2 separate regions of the Homo sapiens genome follow, and region 2 is linked to region 1. The links come from fine-mapping of genetic effects on gene expression. A gene starts in region 1. The other region holds a variant in brackets. All regions are shown on one strand. Distances are from middle to middle.

Region 1 (11,162 bases):
AGTTTTAAGAAGCCAGATATAGTGCTTACATTGAATTCCCAACAACTTTCCTCACACATCAAGCCACAGTCCTTAGCTTCACCTATTTTACTATTACATATACATGTCCATGTTTTAACCCATGGACAAGTTAATGTGAATACTCTCGTTTTCCTCCCTCAACACACACAAAAAATTTCATTTTGGAAATACTCAGAAGTTCTTGCAAGAAATTCCCTGTAGAACTGACTTCTCACATCTTGCATCAGAATAGAAAAGCACAGTTACCTTCTCATGTACTTGAGATTTTCTTTCTCCATCAAATTCATATCTAGGACATTTGGCACATGTCTGGGACAATGACAGGCTCATTCTACTTTATGAGATTATTTAACATATGACTTGAAAGAGTTTATGTACATACCTATTCTTTCTGGGCAAGGAGAAAGCATGCTTAAAAAGATAAGCTTTAACAACAGTAACACTTTCAAACTGACTTTGGAATTCTTGGCAGTTACACACCACTCATTGCTATCCAAAGCATACACCACACACACACAAACACACACACACACACACACACACACACACACACACACACACGACAGTTCTCTCTCTCTCTCTCTCTCTCTGCCAAGCACAGACCTGGGAGATAGGCATAAACTGGTAGGAAGCAAAGGAAAAGTCAGTCTCCCTCCACCTGCTGCCTAAAGTGGGGGTGCTTTGGGCTGACTGGCAGACAGAAGCCTGGGACACAGCCTCAGCAGTAGACTGCCAATATCCTTAAGAAAAATAAACAAACACATACCAACTTGCCCCCACCCCCCACCCCAAGAACTCACATGGCAGGGCTCAAAAGAACAACAGCCCAATTCCCATTAGCCCAGACAATCCTATTAACCAGGACAACCATAAATTCATAAACCTCTCCAACCCTCGAGCAAGCATTGTGGTCTAGAGCTGTACAGACACACACAGACACAGAGGAAATTTGCACCTGTCTTTCTTGACACAACACACCTGTCAGGCCCTGCCCATGCGCACTCTGCTAATAGATTTCTGCCTACCTAGGTTAGGAAAGGAAATGAGTTCTTTTTTTTTTCTTTTCTTTCTTTTTTTTTTTTTTTTTAAATAAGGGAGGGCATGAGTGGAAAAGAGAACAGGAGAAGGGAGTCTTCTAGCCTTGACTTTGCGAGGAGGCCACCCTGTGCTTCCTCTGTTTTTATAAGCTCAAGGAGACAGCACAGATCTTCTCGGAAAAATAAAAACAAGCAGGTGAGTTTCCAGCCTTCCCCCAGGCAGAGTAGCCTTCTGGGTTGCCAAGAACAGCAGTTTCACACTCCAACCTGCCTCCTTGAGCTATTTAAGACTAAGCACCACCCCTCCTTCTAGTTCTGTTCTCTGTCTGCCTGGAGGGCTCTCAATTTCCCAAGAAGCTGGGAAGGGGCCAGAGACCTGGGAGTCTGTGGAAAGCTACTTACTCCTCCTTTACCATCCCCACGCTCCATCACTCCACCAACCTTCAGCTTCAGCAGGGGGAGTAACGGGCTGGCACACCAGAAGAATCAACAACTTGCTAAACTGGACTTTGGGTGATGTCTCCCCCCGCCCACTGCGTCCCCCTCCTGATCTGCTCAGGCAAGATAGCAGCTCTTCCCTCCCTCTTCCCGCCCTCCTCACTAGTCTTCCCAGTAACAATTACTCTCACCTCTCCTGTCCTCCCTCCCCAGTCCTCCTAACTGGGGCAAAACGGTAGGTACCACCCAGACGAGACCAGACCGAAGCTGCCCAACACCATAGTCTGCCAGCGATGGCTGGGAGATTCATCGCCTCCCATTTCTGCTGCCCAAGAACCCCCTACTCTTACCCGGCCCGCGATCCTCCGGTCCTCCTCGTGCTGGTGTCCCAATCCCACCGCCACGCGACCCCCCGAGCCTCCCGGTGCCGCCTTACCCTACTCAACTTGACCCAGCCCTGGGTCCAGGAGCTCGGAAGAGGGGCGCCGCGCGCGTTTCCCGGGACCCATCACCGCTCCCCTCCAAGCCGGATTTCCACAATTCGGCTTCGACAGCGTTTTGAGACGAAAGTAACAGAGCGCCCCCCCACCTCCCTCTCTCCTCCTCCCAGTTCCCGGTCCTCTGCTGGGGTTAAAAAAGGAGAAGTGAAAGGTATGCAAATGACAAGCAAATTGGAAGAGCCGGGAAGAAAGGCAGCTATAATAAACAAGACAAAGAGAAAGGACAAGGGGACCGGCCCCGGAGTTTTAGCCTGGGGAGATCGGAAGGATGGGGTTTGGCGGAAAGCGGGGATCTCCACGAACAAAAAAGCGACCCGGTCCCTCTCGCGGTCCTCTCTCCTGAGAAGAGAGAGCAGGAGAAAGAAGGAAAGGGAGCAAACGCCTCCTCACACCCCAGAAACAGTACACAAAAGGTGACAAGATCAGCGACAAGTCCAGCAACATCAGCCTCCCCCCCATCGCCACCGCCACCCCCAGCCACCAGCAGGAAAGAGAAAGAAATAAAAGCCAAGAGGATCACTTACTCTTAGGAACTGGGAGGAGCGGAGCGCTGAGTTCCACGGAGGCTCCCGCTTAGAAACTGTTTAGAGGCTATTTTATTATGATTCATTTGAATAACACCATTTTCTCCTGGGGGGAATAATGTTTACACGGGTCTGAGTAATGGGAGGCTCTTTTCTTCCTTTCTCATTCAAGAACAAGACAGTGCAAGTGATTCTGGAAAAGGGGAGGGACTCACGAGGGGAAGAAGAAGATACTTACGCGGTGCAGGGAGCAGTGGGACCGAGCCTCTCTCTCTCTCTCTCTCTCTCTCTCTCTATCTCTCTCTCTCTCTTTTTTTTCCCCCGGCAGAGAGAGGAAAACACGCGAGTGCACACACGGTGATATCTTGCGGGTGATGAATATGATAATTGGACAAGGGACGGTGAGTCTGTGCGACAGCGAGCGAGCGAGCGGGGCGAGTGGGAGAGGGAGAGGGGAGAGAGAGGCGGGAGGGGAGGGGAGACGAGAGAAGAGGAGCAGGGGAGAGGCGAGGAGAGGGAAGAAGAGGAGAAGAAAAGAAGAGGAGCTAAGGGAAGAGGAGAGAGCAGGAGAGGAGGAGAGAGAAGAGCGGGAGGAGAGGAGAGAGCAGCAGAGGAGGAGAGAGGAGAAGGGTAAAGAAGAGAAGAGGAGCGAAGCGGAGAGGGAGCAGGCGGACCCGGCGAGAGCTCTTTTGCGCCGCTCTGCTTTCCCCGGCTGCAATGGTGTATTATTTCAGAGCGCTCCCTCAGCTGAGGGCTCCGCTCCACAACAAGATTTACTTTAAGACACAGCTGAAGGAAACAGGAAGACTGCACGTCACAGTCTATCTGACGTACCCGGCCCCAGCACCCAATCGCGAGGCGCCTTCGGATTCAAGGGGGGATAGCAAGGCAAGAGAACTTGGGAGGAAAAAAAAATATAAAAGGGGTGGGGGTGAGGGGCTGGGAAGAGAGGAGGGGAGAGGGGCCCTGCGCTCCCCCTCCCCGGCCTCCATCCCCGGCCCCCACCCCCACCCCCACCCTGCCACAGCTTCGGGACGACTGGATCGCCGCGCCTGGGCCGGAGCGAGCCATCTGCGGGCACTATGCAAAGCGGGAGACGGCGCGAGCGGCGCCCGGCTCACACTAGCTCTTCCAGGACGCAGGTCTTTTTTTTTTTTTTTCTTTTTCTTTTTTCATTTCCCAGATACAGCTGATCGAGTTCGCCGAGTGGCCGAGCGAGTGAGCGCTCCTCCGACTTGGGTGGAGGAAGGCACGGAAAAGTATACGGGAGAAAAAGTGGGGGTTTTAGGGGTGGGGGTGGCATAGGAGGAGGGAGGGGGGGATCTGCAAATCATTCCACTTTTTAAACGATCATAGGTAGTGTCAAGGATACGTGTCACCCTTGGTTCCTTTTAAAGGGGAGGTGGACAATAAAATACAGGTAGGTTTGGTATTAAAATAATAGGTGCCAGAGGTTTCACATCGGGTCCGCTGCATCTGTTATTAGACGAAGATCAACATTGGCTGAGTCCCAGTTTATCTCCAGTCCAAATTATCAGGAAGAGGAATATTTACCCTTGGTTACCTCTGACATTAGTTGGATTGTAGGTAAAGCAGCCTTTAAAAATATATATGTTGCAAACATCTGGCGATTACCCTTCACTAATTCACTCGCCCCAGAAAGACCAAAGATAGCTGTTCAATACAGGATTTACACAGTTTTGACGCCTGGGCAACAAACTTTAAAGTTTATTAGGCAAGAAATTTCAAACGCATAAATCGCAGGCTCTAAAATAAAGCCCTAGAAAATTTACTTTGGTTTGACATTTCTTGCTTGAAAAATAACCAGCAAAATTTCTTTAGATAATGTGGCTCTTAAAGATCTCCTTGGGCTTTGCAAGTTACAAATGCAAGCGAGCCTCAGCCGCAGCTAGAACGTCCCTTTCACCGGGCACAGTAAACGGCTTTTAATAAAGCAGCCGCGTTTATGACCTAAAGATCCTATAAAAGCTGGGACTTGCAAGAGCTGCGAAGCAGAAACATTCATACATAGTCTATTAGACACTCATTTTTGTAAGTAGGAGGAGGACAAGTAGTCTTCGTGTGTCCCTCAAATTTAATCAGATCAAAGGTTGAATCATGCTGTGTCGTGACAACAGGGTATTTATGAGGTGTGTTACAAGTACACTGGCCAAACACTACCAATGTCTTCTGCGACACACACACACACACACTCCTTCCTAGGGAATTTACAATTTCAGCCTCAAATTCACCAAACCGTAAAGAGGATATTAAGCCCTCCCTTTGAATAAGAATAGCGATGTTAGTATGTCCGAGTCTATCCCGGCAGGAAACTTTTGGCACGAATTTCAAACAGTGAAAAGGAGAAAAAAAATTAGGTCGGTCAGGTTAGGTGTCGGCGATAAGAAAAGAGATTGCGGGAGCATCCCCAGCCTTCTTCTTTCCCCTTTTGCCGCCCCCACACACTCCCCCCACGCGTCTATCACGGAAGCAACACAGAGGAGCGCACACGCACCACTCACACCTCCAACTATTGACTGTTGTATCAGGTGTTCTAACCGGGATGTGACAGTTGAGGCTGGGAGCAGAAATAATCAACATGCCCATTAGATACAGGACGGAATAATGCTTCTATTGGTTGGGTCCCTTCGAGGTAAGCGGGTGTATTGAGCGGGGAAACTTGGGATCTGAGAATGGATCAAAGCTACTTTCTTTCTTATTTTTCGTCCTACTAGTTTTCTTTAAGAATCTTGGTTTGTACATATAAGTTAGCGCCAGCCCACAAATAAACTGGTAGGAGTAAGGGCTATATACCTTTCCACACCTTAAAACCATCTGCTCAGTTTGACATTTAAAAGGGCGGAGAGCAGAGAAGGAGGAGGGGGGAGTAGGGGGAAGAAAGGAGTCAGGGACAGAGAAAAAGATTCAAACGCGAAAAAAATGGCTTGCACTTTAGCCCACAAGTTTGTGTCAATTGCACATAGCGCTTGAATGCACGTTTTGCACACACCACGCCCGGGAACTGGCGGCGGGAAAAGTTCCCTGAGAACCCCAGTAAGTCCTGTGTCACGCCGTGGGCAAAAGCAGGCCTGAGTCGAAGTCGGGGTAACCCGCTTGCCGAACAAGGAAGCTCTCCCACCCCCAGCCTCGGCGGCAGAGGCTCCCGGCTCGCGACGCTCTGCCGCGGCGGTTCGCAGCCCGCATTAGGGCGCAGGAGCGGCGACTTGAAATAGGAGCGCGCGCCACGCTAGGCGAGCGAGATCGGTTCGCAGCCCAGCTCCGTGAGCTGCCTCGGCGCAGCCCTGTCCCGTGTCCTGTCCTCTACTGTCGGGGAGGCGTACAGGCCAGGCTCCTGGCAACCTCTCTTGCTAGAGCTGCGGCATTCTCCTGGGTCTCGGGCTGCCCTGGACAAGACTTGAGGCCCGAGCCCCCTATCTCGGGCGACTCCCGCTTTGTTTTCTGATAGGGGAGAAGCCTGGAGACAAGGAGTCGCCTAGATATTGGCTCCATCTCTGAAACCAGCCGCCAAGCCTAGGGTTAAGACAACTCCTCCCTCCGCCCCACTTCCAACACAACCCCAGTAACTTAGAAGTTAACGCAAGTTCTGACCGGTCTTGTAACACACTCTATCCGTGCAGGTTGCATTTACTTATTTATCTGAAGGGTGATCTGTGTGTTCTTAGACAAACTCGCAGTTATCACCCATGCATCTGGTTCTGGGTTAAATACACTTCGCCTTGACATTTGCTCGGTGTATGCTCACGCCTCCTGTTCTTTCTTAAAGCTGTTAGGTGGGGGCAGGAGGGAAGACAGTGTGTATAAGTAATTTAAAACCTTACAAACAACTGTTATCAGATCCTAAACAAACCAATTCTGAGAATTACAACCAGATTCAGTTGAGAGGCAAAAGTGGACGTGGATTTTGGAAAAGGGTGCCTAAGGACTTCCAGGTCAGCCACCCACCGCTACCACCACCACCACCGCCACCACTACCACCATCACTATCAGCACCCTGAAGAAGGGAAGAGAGGAAAACCAACCCCAGGGTGCAGGCCTGCCTGCTGCAAGCTTTCTAGAGGCAAAACTGACTGACGGCCTCTCACTCTCATCTCCTGTGCTCAGTGTGACGCCAAGCCCAACCTGGATTTGTTCTGAATGGGGGGGAAGTGAAATGCCACAAGATCAGTAGCAAGTAGCAGCTGCAGCGTTTTCTCTCCTGGGAACCCCACTGCTTAGAAGCCTCCTGAGTGATGTTTGTTTAACCAACAGCTTTCAAAGTAAACAGAAGCCAATCACTCCAAAGAAGTTGAAATATAACCCTTACAAGAATTTGGATCCAGGGGTGCTGGCAGAAAGAAAGTAATTTTTAAAATGATAAAGAACCCACTCCCAAATAAGAGTCTGCCACATTGCTTTAAGGAGCGCAGAATTGTCATGAAAATATAATTTCATCGAAAGGGCTAATTACAATAAGTTGACCTCGAAGAAAATCACTCTTCGCCCACAAAGACACACCCGCGGGGATGAGGAGGTTGTCAGTGATTGAAGGGACACACTACTACTTGATTTTATGGAAGTGGGCGAAAACAATCAAAGGGAAGTACATTCCCTGCCCTGGAGTAGTGAAGTGTAGGCTGGGAGCTCTTCGCCGCCAACCCTGGCTTTGCCTCAGGCACCGAACTTTCCAATACCAAGATATTAACAGATGGTGGTGAGCACATGGAGGGCTGCTACTTACATAATCTAGCCACTCCGCCCGGCTGCCCAGAGCCCGGCGAGGAACCGGCCAGGCCGCGCGCGCGCCTTCCGAGGGGTGCTCCCTGACATAACTTGCCTTTCTCCAACCCCACCCATCGTTTTGAGGGTTAGCATTTGGAGAGGCCGTGATTTAAAAAAACCAAACAAAAACAAAAACACCCAAAACATTGATTTGGCTGTGCTTTGTCTTCTTCAGTCCATAGTAGCGAAGAAGCTGGAAACCCAAAGGCTGAGAGAAACGGAGGGGATGCCTTCGGCGAGAAAGGGGTGCTCTCCCTACGTATCTGGGGGTTCCCGCGAGTGGAATTTACACAATTTACAACACTCTTGCCCACCATCTTTGGTTCAAATCCACATATCTTTTGCTGTCGCTTAAGTACAAAGGCAGTCTCGGGCCGCAACTCAAGGGGAGTGAGATGGGGTGAGGGTGTGAGTGTGAAGGGGACACCTTTGCACGCGGGGGCGCAGTGGGCAAAGTTACGCAAAGCCTCTGGGCACCGCTACACTTCCAAGCTGTGGCAGGGTTTTAAGCGCTCGATCCCGCTCGCAGGGAGTCCCTTTCGGATGTGTGGCCGCCTGCTGCCTTCACGCCCTCAGCCGCCTCCCAAGAGGCCCTGTCCCTCCTGGTGTGCCTGTGTACCTCCTCCAGTGTGCCAGGGCACGTGTGCTTCCCGAGCCTCCTCCCTGACTGCGACTCGGGACCGCCGAATCCTGCGAGGAATACGCCTGCGTGTGTTGGAAAAGTTTCGGGTTGGGCAGGAAGGCTGGGAATCTCCTCTCCAGGCACTCGGCAGGAGCGGGGCTTCCTCGCCCGCGGCTTCCTCCCAGTGCCCTCCTCCCTCCCCGGCCCGCCCTTCCTAGCCTCGGCCCCGCGCTAGGTGTCGCGGCCTCTCCGGCCAGAGAGAGCGAGCGCCAGATGCTGCGGCTGCCGCGGCGCCGCGCTCCGCAGAGGGCGCGCCCCTCCTGCCTGCGCGGCCAAGTGGGGGTCCAGGCCGCCCTGCTGGTCCCTCCTCGCTCTGGCCCCGCGGCACTTGCCTCTTCCCGGGCCATCGCAGGGGCTGCAGCCTCGCTCAGCTAGCCTGGGCTCAGTACACGCCCTGGACGCAGAGGGCAACCACCTGCTCCCGGCGCGCCGCAGAGCCGGGGAACGTCGTGGTGGCCGGGGGATTTCGGCCGCCGCCAGGCCTGCGCTGCCCCCGCGGCCTCTCCTCCCCCGCCGCCCGCCTGTTGCTGTGGGGACAGCCGGTGGACGCGCTCGACCTGGGAGGGGGGACTCCCTCCCGGGACCGCGGGAGGGGCGTGCACGTTTGAAGGGATGGAAATCTCCCTTTCTGCCCACCCCCTTTCTTTTGTCAATTACTCTAAGGATGTTTGGCCGTTACTCCCAGCTTCCCTCTCTTTGGTCTTTCACGTCAAGGATGTGAATTCGGGGGTGCTCCATTTTCAGGGGCTTTGGTGATAGGACTGAAGTTTTCCATATTGTCCATCTTACCAGAAGCTTTTATTCAGGGTGAGGAGTGGGCTAGAAATAAGTAGGTGCCTGCCTGACGCAGCGAAAAGAGAAGGACGCTCCCAGTTTGGATGCATTTGGAGAGAGTAACTGGAAAGTTGCATTTTGTTTAAATTAGAGCAAGATGAAGTTGAAAGCCAGATTTCTATATTTTTTCTGGTAATATTTCTTTTATGAAGTATCTAAGTGTCTGTTTGTCATCATTTTGAGATCAAAAGGAAAATCCATATGCTGTATAGTTTTTCGAAATTGCTATTTAAATATGTTTTAAATGTTTTGTCCAACGTGGAGTAGGCTGCTTGGAGGCAAGGCTGGTGACAGGAATAGCGGGATGGTTTGATGTGGAGTGGTGCTTCCGAAGACCTGACGAATCATCGGAATCACCGAAGGGGTGTTTTGTTGTTGTTGTTGTTGTTGTTGTTGTTGTTTTAAATAAAGATTTCTGGGCCCACCCCAGTGAGGTAATCAGAAGAAGGACCTGGGAATCTGGGGGTCACCCTGTGTCTTTAATTACTGCTCAGCTGGTTTGTTACTGACTCTGTGACCTTCAGTGTGTTACTTAATCTGTTTGAGACTCAGTTCTTTTTATCTGTGAAGTGGGGATAATATCCAAATCATAGATTTATTGAGAGACTTCTACACGACTAAACTTGTTCAGCACATGACTAGTGCTCAATACTTGGAAGGTATGTTGCCCACAAATGAGTGCTGTGTACACTCGAGCTGACATGTATTCTTATAAGGACCTGTCCCTATCCCCAACGTTTTGGTGAAGCCAGCTGGACTGTCATGGGATATGTATGTGTATGCACATTTTAGCTCATGCATAGTTGTCACCTTTACATGCTTTCCCCTCCCCCGTCTTTTAGGCCATAAAATAAATCAGAATTGGCACATTTGGAAGCTAGGCCCTGTGCTTTTGGACCTAGAACTGTCCATCAGGCCTACTGGCAAAGGGGGGAATTTACCAATCTGAAGTCTACTTCCTCCTCCACCCCACCCCCACCTTTTTTTGGCCCGTTCACCCTCCCTGTTTTATAGATGGCAAGCATCTCCTAAAGAAACCGCTGGTCAGACCAATGAAACCACAGGACAAAGAGTTCTCTTCAAAAGGGAACAACAAGAAGGAGAGAAAAAAAAAAAAGACAACATTCCTAGGTAAAACAAAAGCAAATGTAGATCATATGTTATATGTTTTTACATGTTTGACTCAATAACCTCCCCCAAATCCATGTAAATTAAAATATAAACTTTCATAAAGTTATGTTCAAACCAATGAATAGAAGCATACCCCAAGGTGATTAGGGGACAGACAGCCAAGGACAGCTGTGAGAAGGGAAAGGAAGCTGGGCAGGAAGGTGCCATGCTCGGCTGTGACTGCAGAAGTGGGGGGAAGAAAGCCAAGGAAATGGAACGGGCTGAAGCAGCAGACAACAGCTCAAGAGGGCTGACAGTTTTTCAACTGCAGAGGCCTGTGAGCAGCTTATTAAACATCCCGAGAAAGGTGTTTTGCTGGTACCCTCAAAAGGCTTGAGATAAAGTAATCGTAGATTCCCGGGGGCGGGGGGAGTAAAGAAGGGATTGCCAGCGTGGGGTGTCGGTGGGCCCAGCCCCTAGTGAATGGACCCCAGGGGTCGGGGTGAAGGCACTGCACTCTCTGAATGAGGGAAAGAGGAAGCATCACCCCTAGATGCCTGTCCTCCTGGTGTCCGTGGTCTTTGGGCAAGCGTGGAAGGTTCCTGCTCTCTGGCTACTTTCTCTGTCCCTGTTTCCTAGGTGGAAAAAGTCCGTAACTTTAGGGGACAAAAACAAAGGGCGCCCCCCAAAAACTAGAGAGAAACATATTTGGGGTCAAACTGTACAAAAATGGATGGCAACTTCTGGCTTCTCCTCCCCAAGCACCCTCCTAGTGGAAAGAGCTCTATTCCCTACACTTGTAGGTGGACAGGGGGCAAAGGCCGAGAGGCAAAGGGTGTTGGTGGGTGAGTTGGGGGAGAACGGGATGGGGAGGGCTGGGGGAAGTGTGTCTGCAGAGTGTGAATGGGCGGGACAGGGGTAGTGTGTAGCTGTGTGTGTGTGGGAGGGGCAAGGGAGTGGAGTTGGGGGAGCGAGTGTGGGTGGGCTCTGTCGGGGGAACTTCGAACTGGGGGCGCGGGGGAGGTGGGTGGAGGGGAGTTGGGTGGGCGAAGAGCGCCAGTTTCCCCGGAGGAGGCCCGGGAAACAGGCGGGGAGGGGGCGTGTGGAAGCGTCGTTTGAAGGGCGGAGGGGCAGGCCGGAGAAAAGGCCAGGCGGGAGGCTAAATCTGGCAGGGGCTCCAGCCCGGCGAAGGCCGACGCGTCTCGGCTTCCTCTCGCCTAGACTTTTGAAGCGGCTG
Region 2 (11,162 bases), 330 kb after region 1:
GGAGGCCTGACAAGGAGGCTCGCCCAGCCCGTTCCACCCCACTGACTTCCAGGCAAGATCGCCCCAGCACACAGCTAAGTGTGTTGTTTTTACCTTCTCTCTACCTGAGATCCTGACACCAGCCCCTGGTTTCTGCAATAGGACATGGCTTGGACTCACCCAGTTCACGTAGCAGTAATTGGGTCAGTCCTATAGTTATCAACTTATTTATAATTTCAAAAAAGGCTGCATGTCTGGCAAAGGATTCCCCATTTGCTAGGGTAGAAAAAAAGGGGGCAGCTTAAGCTCTGGGGTCTGAAGGCTGCGATAAAATTAACCAGTAGCCTGAGGGACTTCAACCATACACAGATAATTTTCTTGAGATGACAATTGTTCTAGGCTGAAATAGACAACTCGGGAAGGCTGTGGAAACTTCTGCTCTCAAGATTCAAAATATAGCACACAGCCTCACTACCTGGGCTTGTCTCTACAGGCAAAATGATCTCTGAAATCTAGCTGCAGGACTCAACGACTGGCGAATTTGTGCATGACACAATCATAATCAATGGGAAGGATTTGTTCCATTGCTCAGATAAAACCAGTTGCATTATTTCATCGCCCTACTGCATACATGGGGGAGAATGGTGCTTTTTCTGCAAAACTACTCTGCCATTTTTGGGCACAGTTTTGTTGTAAGATTGGTGTGCAATAGAATGAAGAGTAAAGAAAGGGATAAATGAACCATAATTTGTAGGCATGAGTCTGTCATTCCATTCTCCCACTAATATTATAGCTTTGGGTGTATTTGAATTACTTTTATATATGCATCTGTGTTGCTAGGCTCTTTAAAATGAGCTACCTAGAATCTTCCACAATGTTTGCAGTTAGTTTGGCACACAGTAGGTACAAAATAAATAAATTAGGCGCATGAGCAACGACTGATTTTGGTTTTTCTAATTGGGGCTTGTTTTTCTAAATGGAGATCTTAGGGCTCCGCCCATGGGTGAAGCATATCACTGCCTTTCCTTCTACATTCCAGACATGTGCCCAGAGGCCTTCCAATGAGGAGGGTAGAGTCTAAAATGAGCTCACTGGCATTAAAATCCCCTACAGCTTCTGGACATGAAACTTGGACATTTTTTACATTCCCTAGAGATACTGGCCTACATTAAAATTTCAGTCCCTTCCCGTTCCTCCTCCCTGTCACTCCAACTAAAAGAATTATCTAAACATGTCCCTCACACATTTATTACAAAATAAACTTGCCTCCTAGAGAGAGGGTAGCTTTAGGGGCTCCTGTAGCCAAGCTAATATGCCCAAAGCTAATATTAAACCAGTAACCTCGGATCTCCAACAGAATACCTAGGGGCCACCACACCTGAGACAGCTTGTTCTCTCAGCCAAGACACACACCCGGCTCTAGGTATAAAGTGAATTTCCCATGTGAAATTTTTCCTGATGCCCTGACTCCTTTGCAACCTGACCTTAAAGGAATAAGTTCAATGCTTAATTATGGATGTATTATCAGGTGTAAACAAGGAATGTAGATGATAGCTTGGCTAAGGTTAGATAAACGACTTCCCTTTTCCCTATCATTTTCTTTTTTTAAAACCTGATTGATCCAAAGATATTTATTTTTGACTGCTGTTGGGAACAGTATGCACTTACAGGCACATATGCACCTCTGGTCTATTTACACATAATTATTGTTTGAGGAATAAATGTTAAGAGAGTTTCATTGTAAGAAATCGAAACTTGAACATTTATGCCAGTAAGCAGTTAAAAAAAAAAAAACCCTGAATACAAGAGAAATTCTTTAATGAAGGAAGTCATTAGTTTTGATTTGAATTTAAATGTTGTAGCAACTTTCCTTTTGGTAACTAATAAATAATAACTTAGTTGTACGTGATGATGACCATTTTCTTTCTAAGAAAATGTTCTTTGGTAACTGGTACTAATAGAGGACAGTCTGAAAAGAAGAAATCAATCATTGGTTTCTTGAATCTAAATTTTATAGCATTGGAAAATGTTCTAAAGGAAGGATTCTTGGATGGCATGAAGTACCTGGCTCCTAGGACAGCGTATCAGAATAAGAAAGGATGGAACAGGGTTTCAGTGATCCAAGCTTCTCACTCCAGCCCTTCCTCCCTATAAGAATATCAGCTGAGGCCAGGTGTGGTGGCTCACACCTGTAATCCCAGCACTTTGGGAGGCCAAGTCGGGTGGATCCCTTGAGGTCAGGAGTTCGAGACCAGCCTGGCCAACATGGAGAAACTCTGTCTCTGCTAAAAGTACAAAAACTAGCCAGGTGTCATGGCAGGCACCTGTAATCCCAGCTACTTGAGAGGCTGTGACAGGAGAATCGCTTGAACCCAGGAGGCGGAGGTTGCGGTGAGCTGAGATCCTGTCACTGAGCTCCAGCCTGGGTGACAGAGGGAGACTCCATCTCAAAAAAAAAGAAAAAAAAGAAAAGAAAAGAAAAAAGAATATCAGCAGAGTGATCTAGTCTTACTAACACATGTAATACATGTTTGTCTTCAGGTGCGGAGGGCTGGAGATGCAGAGAACCCCAGTCAAGGTTAAATTCAGTGAACAAAAGCAATGGAGAGAGCAAAGTAGGGGATGAGAAAGCCTCAGCAGGCATTTCCCCCAGTTTCCTTGGTCAAACACTACTCACCATTTCCTTTTATAACTCTGAGCTAATTACCTTGGACTTGTTCACAGTCCCTCTATTTATGCAATCCAGAATAACGTTTGATTTATTTTATTGCTCCAGAACCTGGTGCCAAAGACATTAACATTTTATCCGCCTGTGCACTTGGATTTATCCTCTCAAATCTATTGCCCATGACCAAGGAAGATCTGTCTTGCCTCTAGATTTCTTGTCCCTAGCCTCATTACCTTATTTGTCACTACACTGAGTTGGATAATCAAATTACCTGCCTCTCTTCAGCAAGCACTTGGAGTTTTATTGTCCTTACTGGCCACCTTTGATCCTCCTTCTGCCCCCTCAGTGCTCGCTCTTCAACCCCTGCAGGGCTTCCCTTAATCTTTGGAGGAGGGCAAAAGTGCTTGACTTAGCCGCTTCACCTCTTTCCCTGTGGGCCAAATGTCACCCCCTCTCCGGATCTCAGGATCAGTAACACAACTAGTTCCCCAGGCTCATCTACAAGTGGGTCCCCCAAGCATTTGCAGAAGTTATCCCACATAATGTGATGATACAGGTTCCTAGACAATCTCCCTCTATGTAACCCACACCACTCATATCTGACTCTTTAAACATTACACAAAACACAAGAAAACCAAGCACTCTGGAAGGATTGTTCTTTACAGTGCGCACAAGCATTATGTCATTCATTTCCTCCCTACAGGTGGAATTTGATTGTCCCAATCCAAAATGACCTCCGGAGCCTCTATTTCCTGCACCCCTCAGCCCTCACAGTACCTCAGTATGTGGCTGAGTCATGCAACCATTCATGATACAGTATGTCCACTCTACCAAAATGCAAACTTGCCAAGGCAGGGCCATAGAAAATATGTTATTCATCCATGTACCTCCTAAAATATAGCATAATGCCTAGAATTAGCAGGCTTTCAATAAATATCTGTGAAAGGAAACTGAGAAGCAAAAGAGGGAGAGAAATTAAGAAGATGACTCTAGTGTTGTAAGAGCAGCAAAAAATAGCACCAACCACTTATCATGAAACTGTTTTTCCCCCAAAAGTTTGGTTTTTCAAATTCTTATTTCTTAAGTTCCTGTTATTCATTATTCACATGTGTTTGTATACGTTCTGCCTGGAATTGAATTCTCTAATGCTTTATTTCCCAAGTCTTAATTTCTGAATCTCTTGTGGTGATGTAATCGTGTTATTCGTTATTTCTTTAGTTTCTTTGGTTTCTTTTAGGAAATGCATGTCTGCTTCTAACATTTGTCCCCCATCTTCTGAGAATTCCAAGGCAAAAAAATATTTTTTTAAATAATTAAATAATTACATTATTTTTTTTAGCTACATCTACCTCTTTTTAAATTACCCTCCAATTCTTCATCATCCAACTATCGCCTTCAATGACCCCTATGTTCCTTACACACTTGAAATTTTCCCCATTATTTATCTTAACCTTCAGTGCAATCTCTTTTTCATTCACTACCTTTGCCTTCCTTATCTTTTTTTACACTCCCTGGACTTTGTTCAGTAATCTTCCCTGGCTGCCTCTGTACTCGATGCTTAATGCCTCACATATGTCTCTTTCTTACCTTTGATTACTTTTTTTTCACTTGTTCATCCACATTGTGGAGTCTCTTATTGCTAGGAGTGCATGCAAGATGACCCCTGGGTTTATGTTAATTTATAGTTGAATACTTTTCATTTCCAACTATGTTCATCATTTCTTCCCTCTCTTCAGCCCACACGGTTTCACCTGGCCCCTCTGATGCTCTTCAGAAATGCATAGTATCTTTTTGATATGGGATAGTGACAGTGAATTCTGCTTCTAGCCTCTGCTGCATTATCTGCTCCCAAAAAAGTAATGTAAGGTAGAGAATAAGGTACTGCTCTCTTCCCAGAAAATACATCTATAAGGAAATGATCGTTGTGAATAGTAGGAAGAACATTCTCTTACACTGTGTCATTGTCTAACCAAATACCATCCAGGCAGCAAACATTTACAAGGCAAAGCACAAAGAGAAAAAAGATTCCTTTTTGCTGAGCTTCTTCCAGCCCCTCAGTGAAGTGGAGTGCATAAGAATGCTTTCAGAGGAATGGACCCTGGACCCAGAATCAGGGTAATGGAGCCCAGTCCTGGCTTGCCTACTGATCAGCTGTGAAATCTCAGAAACGTCCTTTCCCTTGTCTTCAGTCTGCTCTGTCAGTCTCTGTTTGACTCTTCGGTAAAAATGAGGGATTGGATTCTATCATTAAGGGTCCTACCTGTGATTCCAAGGGTGACCATTGTGACAGTTCTGTCTCCACTGCTGTTGTAATTAAGAAATAAGCAAATTTTGTCTTCATTATTCACACCTTCTCTTTTGTTCTTTTCATCCTGTTTTAGGCACCTCTTTCTACCCATCCACTTTATTCCTGCCCAGTGCTGTCACGTTTTGTAATCTGCTAGCCCCTTGTCCCTCCCGAGCCTTGTGCTAGGCTGGGGGAAGTTTCCTAAAATTATTCGCCTGGTGCTGCCACAGGCTGAGATTGGCAGTGCAGTGTAGTGGGGAAGGCATCCAGCCTGGCTGCACATATGATTCTGTGACCTGCTTTGTGTTACATGGCCTCTCTGTGCCCATGTTCCTCATCTGCAAATGGGGACAACATTGGTACCCAAGTCAGAAACTTTCTGGGAGGATTAATTAATACTCATAAAGCATTACAGTAATGCCTGGCAGGAAGTCACCACCATATAAATGCTAGCCAAAGAAAAAAACGAAGTATTTGTATCTTAGAAGTCTCCAAATCTTAAAATAGAGACTGAATTCTGACAAATCAATTTCAAGAAACAGCAAACTGAAAGATTTAGAGGCTTAGGGAGGACTTCTGAGTTTCCTTAACATCACAATACACAGGGGGTCATCCTCTAAAATCACAAATATTCATCCTGGGGGGAGCACAGATCTTAGATTTAACCCAGCTACTGTATATTATTTTATATCAAAACTTCCGTTTCCATAGAAATATTCAGTATATATATATTTTTATTTTGAGTGTAAAGAATGTTTCACAGCAGGTCCCTTTAAAGTGAGGGTTCTCCACCAGAAAAATGTGTATGATCTCTGAGACCTTTTAGTTTCTGTTATAGATACAACTTGTAACCATGAGATGACCTAATTTTGAATTTCTCTCTGCCAGTAGAATCTGAAATGTATCTTCTCCATCAGGTAAACTTGGTCAACTTACAAAATCTAGCGTGTTTTAGAATATCCTTTTCCACAAGTGAGGGGATAATGGATGAAGGAGAGGCCTTCAAATAATAAGATGTT[C/T]ATGACTCACAGGTATCTTATGTTGGATGTCCGAACACAAGGTAATGAATACATTAACTGTGGAATGTTTGGTGTTACTTACCTACATTTAAGGGACAGATAGAAATATACCATAGGCTGGGAATGGTGGCTCATGCCTGTAATCCCAGTACATTGGGAGGCCGAAACAGGTGGCTCACTTGAGGCCAGGAGTTCGAGACCAGCCTGGCCAATGTGGCAAAACCCTGTCTCTACTAAAAATACAAAAATTAACTGAGCAAAGTGGCACATGCCTGTAATCCCAGCTACTCGAGAGGCTGAGGCACGAAAATCACTTGAGCCTGGGAGGGGGAGGCTGCAGTGAGCCGAGATCATGCAACTGCATTCCAGCCTGGGTGACAGAATGAGACTTTTTCTCAAAATAAAGAAAAAGAAAAAATACATAAAACATACCATGATCTTGAAAGGCAAATCACACTACTCTCCAAGACTGGGACACTTGGGCAGTTAGTTAGAGATTTTGCCCCTCAAGAAGCGATCTTTTGTGAGATTTGCCTATAGTTTACTCATTGGGTGAAAAACATCTCTTGAAATGAAGTCGACGTGAACATCAATGTTACAATGAAAGTACCTCACCCGCTTTGTCTTTCCAATACCTAAATATTTATGTTTGGAAACTTATAGGCTGATCATTTGGAGCAGAGCTGTTATTTAAGAAATGATAATGAGAAAAATCAGACAGGCAGCAAAAACTGGGGCCACATTTTTAAGGCTCACTGTTATTAGAAATATGACTTTTTCAGATATTAAAAATAAATCTTTAATTCCCCTCATGCCATTCTGAATCATTTTTACAAACATCTGGATAAAGGAATCACATCAAATCCATGGTGTTTTGAGACATTCCTGGAGCATGGATGTTCTTGAGATTATGCTTTTGGATTACTTGAATAGAAACAATAAATACTTTCAGTACTTAAAGCTGTAATGCTTTAGGTTGGATTTGGATTTTTGTTTCATTTTAGTGAAAGGTGGAGATTCAAAGTCGCCTCCTTAACCAGAAGGATATATTGGATATGAATATAGTTTATTGCTTTCTGACCTACATTTCCCCTTTTTTTATCATTTGAAAAGTTACTTGACAAGTTGAACGCCTGCAGCTCAGCATTTCCAAACATCTGCCTTGAAGGAAGCACTTTGCTTCAGATTTTCACATAATGATCAAAAGTGGGTTTAACTTTCTCAGGTTAAATGGGAACAAGGGGGATGGTCTGACAGGGATAGAAATATATTTGAGAGCAACATAAAAGAGAAAAAAAATACTTGGAGCTGTCAGAAGCTTAACCCTGGAGTCAGCTTGGGCACATGAAGACAGCCTTCAGCTGAGAGATAAGTAATCTGCCATCTGGCGTTGGTTCTAGCACAGTTTGCCCATCTGTACAATGGGGGCTGTAGGGTCTATACACTTTGAAAGAATGTAAAATCAGTGCCAGTGAAGACATGACCTCAAGTCCTGACCCTGCTATAAACTAGCTGTGTGACAATGGGAGGTATGCTATCCTTTGAACTTTACTTCCCTGGAAAAGAGATGTTCTAAGGCCCTATCACCTTTACCATTCTCTGATTCAAAATTGAAGCAGGAAAATGTGAAAATGCAGATTAGAGTTTAATACCAACCTAAGGAAACTAGAAATTAAAATAAAGAAACCCACATTTTAAATTCAGTCCATTCTGCTATGAGCCAGAACAAGCGTTACAACCATAAGCAAAATCAGACAGGGTCCCTGTCCTTTCAGAGTTTACAATCTAGGGGAGAGATAGATATGATCAATTAATTACACAAACAAATATGAAATTATGTCAAGATAAATTACAAATGATAGGTTAAAGAGCCTAAGAAAGAACATAAAGAAAAATTTAAATGTCAACAAATGACTTTATAACATACTCTGAAATTAAGCTGATACAAACTTGAAAGAAACTACAGAAAATTAAGAATGCTAGTAATTTTTTTTTTTTGAGACAGGATCTTTCTCTGTCACCCCAGGGTGGAGTGCAGTGGCATGATCACGGCTCACTGCAGCCTCTACCTCCCAAGAGCAAGTGATCTTCTCACCTCAGCCTCTTGAGTAGCTGGGACTACAGATGCGTGCCACCACATCTGGCTAACTTTTTGTACTTTCAATAGAGATGGGGTCTTGCCATGTTGCCCAGGCTGGTCTCAAACTCATGGCTCAAGCTATCTGCCCGTCTCGACCTCCCAAAGTGGTGGGATTGCAGGCATAAGCCACTGCACCCAGACTAGAATGCTAGTGTTCTTAAATTATCTTCTATTCCAGAATTCCAGAATGTGTCACATGGACTGTATTCTATGATATATTGTAAAGTTAGCCAGCATCTTCCAGGGGGTCTCCCTGGTTCAATCTCACTTCTGTTTATTCATTCAGCCAATACATTTTTACTGTCAAAGTGCTATGTACCAGACATCTTGCTAGGCGCTAGGGATACAGTATGAATAAGACAGTTCTTGCTGAGTTAGCCTTTGCTACATGACAAACCTTCTCAAAACTTCATGGCTCAGAAAATGATGATTTATTAAATTTTCATGACTCTGAGGGTTGGCTGGCTGGTCTCCCTGCTGATTTTGCCTGGCCCAGTCATGTGCTTGCATTCAGGTGCAGGGTGGGTTGGGCTGCAGGGTCTGGGATGGCTGCACTCGCACATCTGGTACAGACAGGCTCCTGGCTGGGGTACCTCAGTTCTCCTCCATGTGGCCTCACATGCAGGCAAAGGCCAGACCAGCTTCTTCACAGGGTGGTCTCAGGACAGCATTCCGAAAGCAGGGAACCAGAAGCCGCAAAGCCTAAGGCCTAGCCTTGGAATTCATGTAACATCATTTTTGTTGCATTTTGCTTGTCAAAACAAATCCCATGAGCATCCCAGATTCAAGAGGTGAGAAAGCAGACTCCACCTCTAAGGTGTATTTATATGAATTTGTGGCCATGTTTTGCAGTCTGCCCGATATCACAGTTAACAATGTGGATGCTGGGACCACAGACCACCTGGGTTCACATCCTGCTCTGTCACTCACTCATTAGCTAAGAAACAACAGGCAAGTTCCTTTACTTCCGTGTGCCTCAGTTACTTTATCTGTAAAATGGGGACACTAATGGTCACCACCTCACAGGACCACTGAAAGGATTAAAGTTAACATATGTAAAGCCCTTAACACAGTGCCAGGCACGTAGAATGCACTGAATAGAGGCTAGCTATTAGTATTATTGTTAATATCATTATTATTATTAATCCAGTCTATCGAAAAGACATTCATCAATAAATTACACAAAAAGATATTAATTAGTATTTGATACTTATAAATTAACATTATAAAATTACTATTAATTAGTATATGTGCTAATTTACACAAATAGCACAAATTAAAAGCAATTAATTAGCATAAGTATGCTGAAGGCAAAATAGAAAGCAATAAGAACAAATAGTACAGGGTGAGTCAGGAAGCATCTCTGAGAAGTGACTGTGAACTGAGGCCTGAATGGTACCCTCATGAATCCAAATGAAGGCAGGAGCTCAGGCCACGTGGGAAGGAGCTCGGCACACAAGGAGCTCAAAACTCAGTCTCTTCCTTCTTTCCTGCTCTCAGCACTTGCTTACAAGAGTTGAACCTTACTAATTCCATGTTTTTCCAACCTTTTCTTGGAAGTATAATGAAAGCTATTAGGGAAGCAATAGAAAGGAACAGAAAACTCCTTGCCTTTGGAGTCAGGCTGGGTAGGCCCTCGTTCTGCCTCTTCAGTTTACCAGCTGTCCAAATGTGAATAAGTGTCTCAACCTCTCTGAATCTCAAGTGCCTCATCTATAAATTAAAATCAAAGTGCCTTTCTTTTAGGGTTGTTGTGAACAGGGCATGATATTCAAAATATTGAGCCATCAGAATAGACCCATGGGCATCGTGCACCAGTGTTGACCACAGAGTCTTGGGCCTGGTTGTGAGGATTAAATGATGAAATATATTTGAAGTGCCTTCAAGGCTGCCTAAAACAGTGGGGGCCGATACACAGTTGTCTTTGTTATCATTGTTTATGTTTGTATTCACCGTGGCTCTCCAGCTTCTCCATGGGGCTTTCTAGGGACCACATCTCCTCTCTCCTCCCAATCTCCCCCACCAGGTGCCCAGCCCAGGCTCCACCTGCCAGTTGCTGACTGCCTGTCTGGCGTTTTTATTGGGGAGATGTAGCCTGCCCCACCCCTGTGGAGATGGTCGAAGATGAATCACATGGCCAGCCTTGCAATAAGAGGTAGGTTTGAAGTTGAAAGGTCTTAAGTAAATAGGGCTCCCCATTCTGGGGGTCTTCTCTCTGCATCCCACTTTTCTCCCTACACTCTGCCTCACACTTCCAAACAACACTCCCTAGGAGGGCGATTCAGCTTCTGGGCTTCAGCCAGCCTCTCCCTTTCTCCCCACCTCCACCCCACCCCCAACACGTTTTCTCTCTCTCTCCCCCTCTCCCCTCTTTTTTTTTTTTTTTTTTAACATGCAAGTTGCCATGAAAAATTTGTTAATGAAATATTTGCTCAGAAGTCTGCTCTGGGCTAGGCTGATAACCTATCTGTGTTTGAGTTTGGCTTCCCATATTCTAAATACTCATCTTCTGTCTGTTTAGCTTATTGATTGGTTTGGCAGGAAAAGAAGCCTTGTCATCAGTGACCAAGGTCAAACTAAACAAAAATGGAATGGGGTGGGGAGAGGGAGATGAGCTGATGGGCTCAGGAGGCAAGGGAGACTTGTCCAAGTTTCCTTGAAGGGACAGATCCCAATTCCAAACAGTTCCCCACTCCCCAGGTTTCCGTTCATCTGTAGCTGGTAAAAGAAAAACTCTTGGCAGAGGGGGCCCGGATGCGGACATAGATGCAAATGCTGAAAGGTGAGAGGCTAGCAGATGGTGTAAACTTAGAGATTTCTTTCCCTGAGTGTGTCAGGAAAAATGAGGGAGGGAGCTTGTGCCTCCATGAGCAATGTTAAAAGGCTTTGCAGGGGATCACTGCTGATACTTTTGCTGAAGGCTAATATCTCACTAAGGCTGACTATTTAGTTAAAGGCATGGTAGTTACTAAATTAGAAATAAAGCCACTGGACAGGTGATATTTGTTGCACAAATTCAGGGCCCCAATCATCATTGATAACACATAAGTGTGTATGAGTCTATTGAGG

Alleles and levels. Positions count from the first base shown, and alleles are read on the strand shown. Sizes are in standard deviations (SD) of each study's normalised expression.
With allele T in place of C in region 2, the expression in pancreas of the gene that starts at base 5,089 in region 1 is higher (moderate effect, 0.48 SD a copy in GTEx).

What was found. PIP is the estimated chance that this variant, and not a neighbour inherited with it, causes the effect.
Region 2: its variant is fine-mapped to the expression of PROX1-AS1 in pancreas (GTEx, PIP 0.99).

Annotation. Positions count from the first base shown.
Region 1 is chr1:213,980,080-213,991,241 of GRCh38, reverse strand. It overlaps PROX1-AS1 (PROX1 antisense RNA 1), which reads left to right and starts at 5,089. Exons shown (of 6, transcript NR_037850.2): 1 at 5,089-5,173. PROX1 (prospero homeobox 1) reads right to left here and starts at 3,269. Exons shown (of 5, transcript NM_001270616.2): 1 at 2,759-3,269. RefSeq lists enhancers at 1,885-2,388, 2,389-2,892, 6,417-7,102, 7,103-7,789.
Region 2 is chr1:213,650,249-213,661,410 of GRCh38, reverse strand. It overlaps a transcript of RPS6KC1 not described here. Among named protein-coding and RNA genes, the nearest start is that of LINC00538, 270 kb to the left of the region's middle. The variant C/T (reference allele first, on the strand shown) is at 5,954.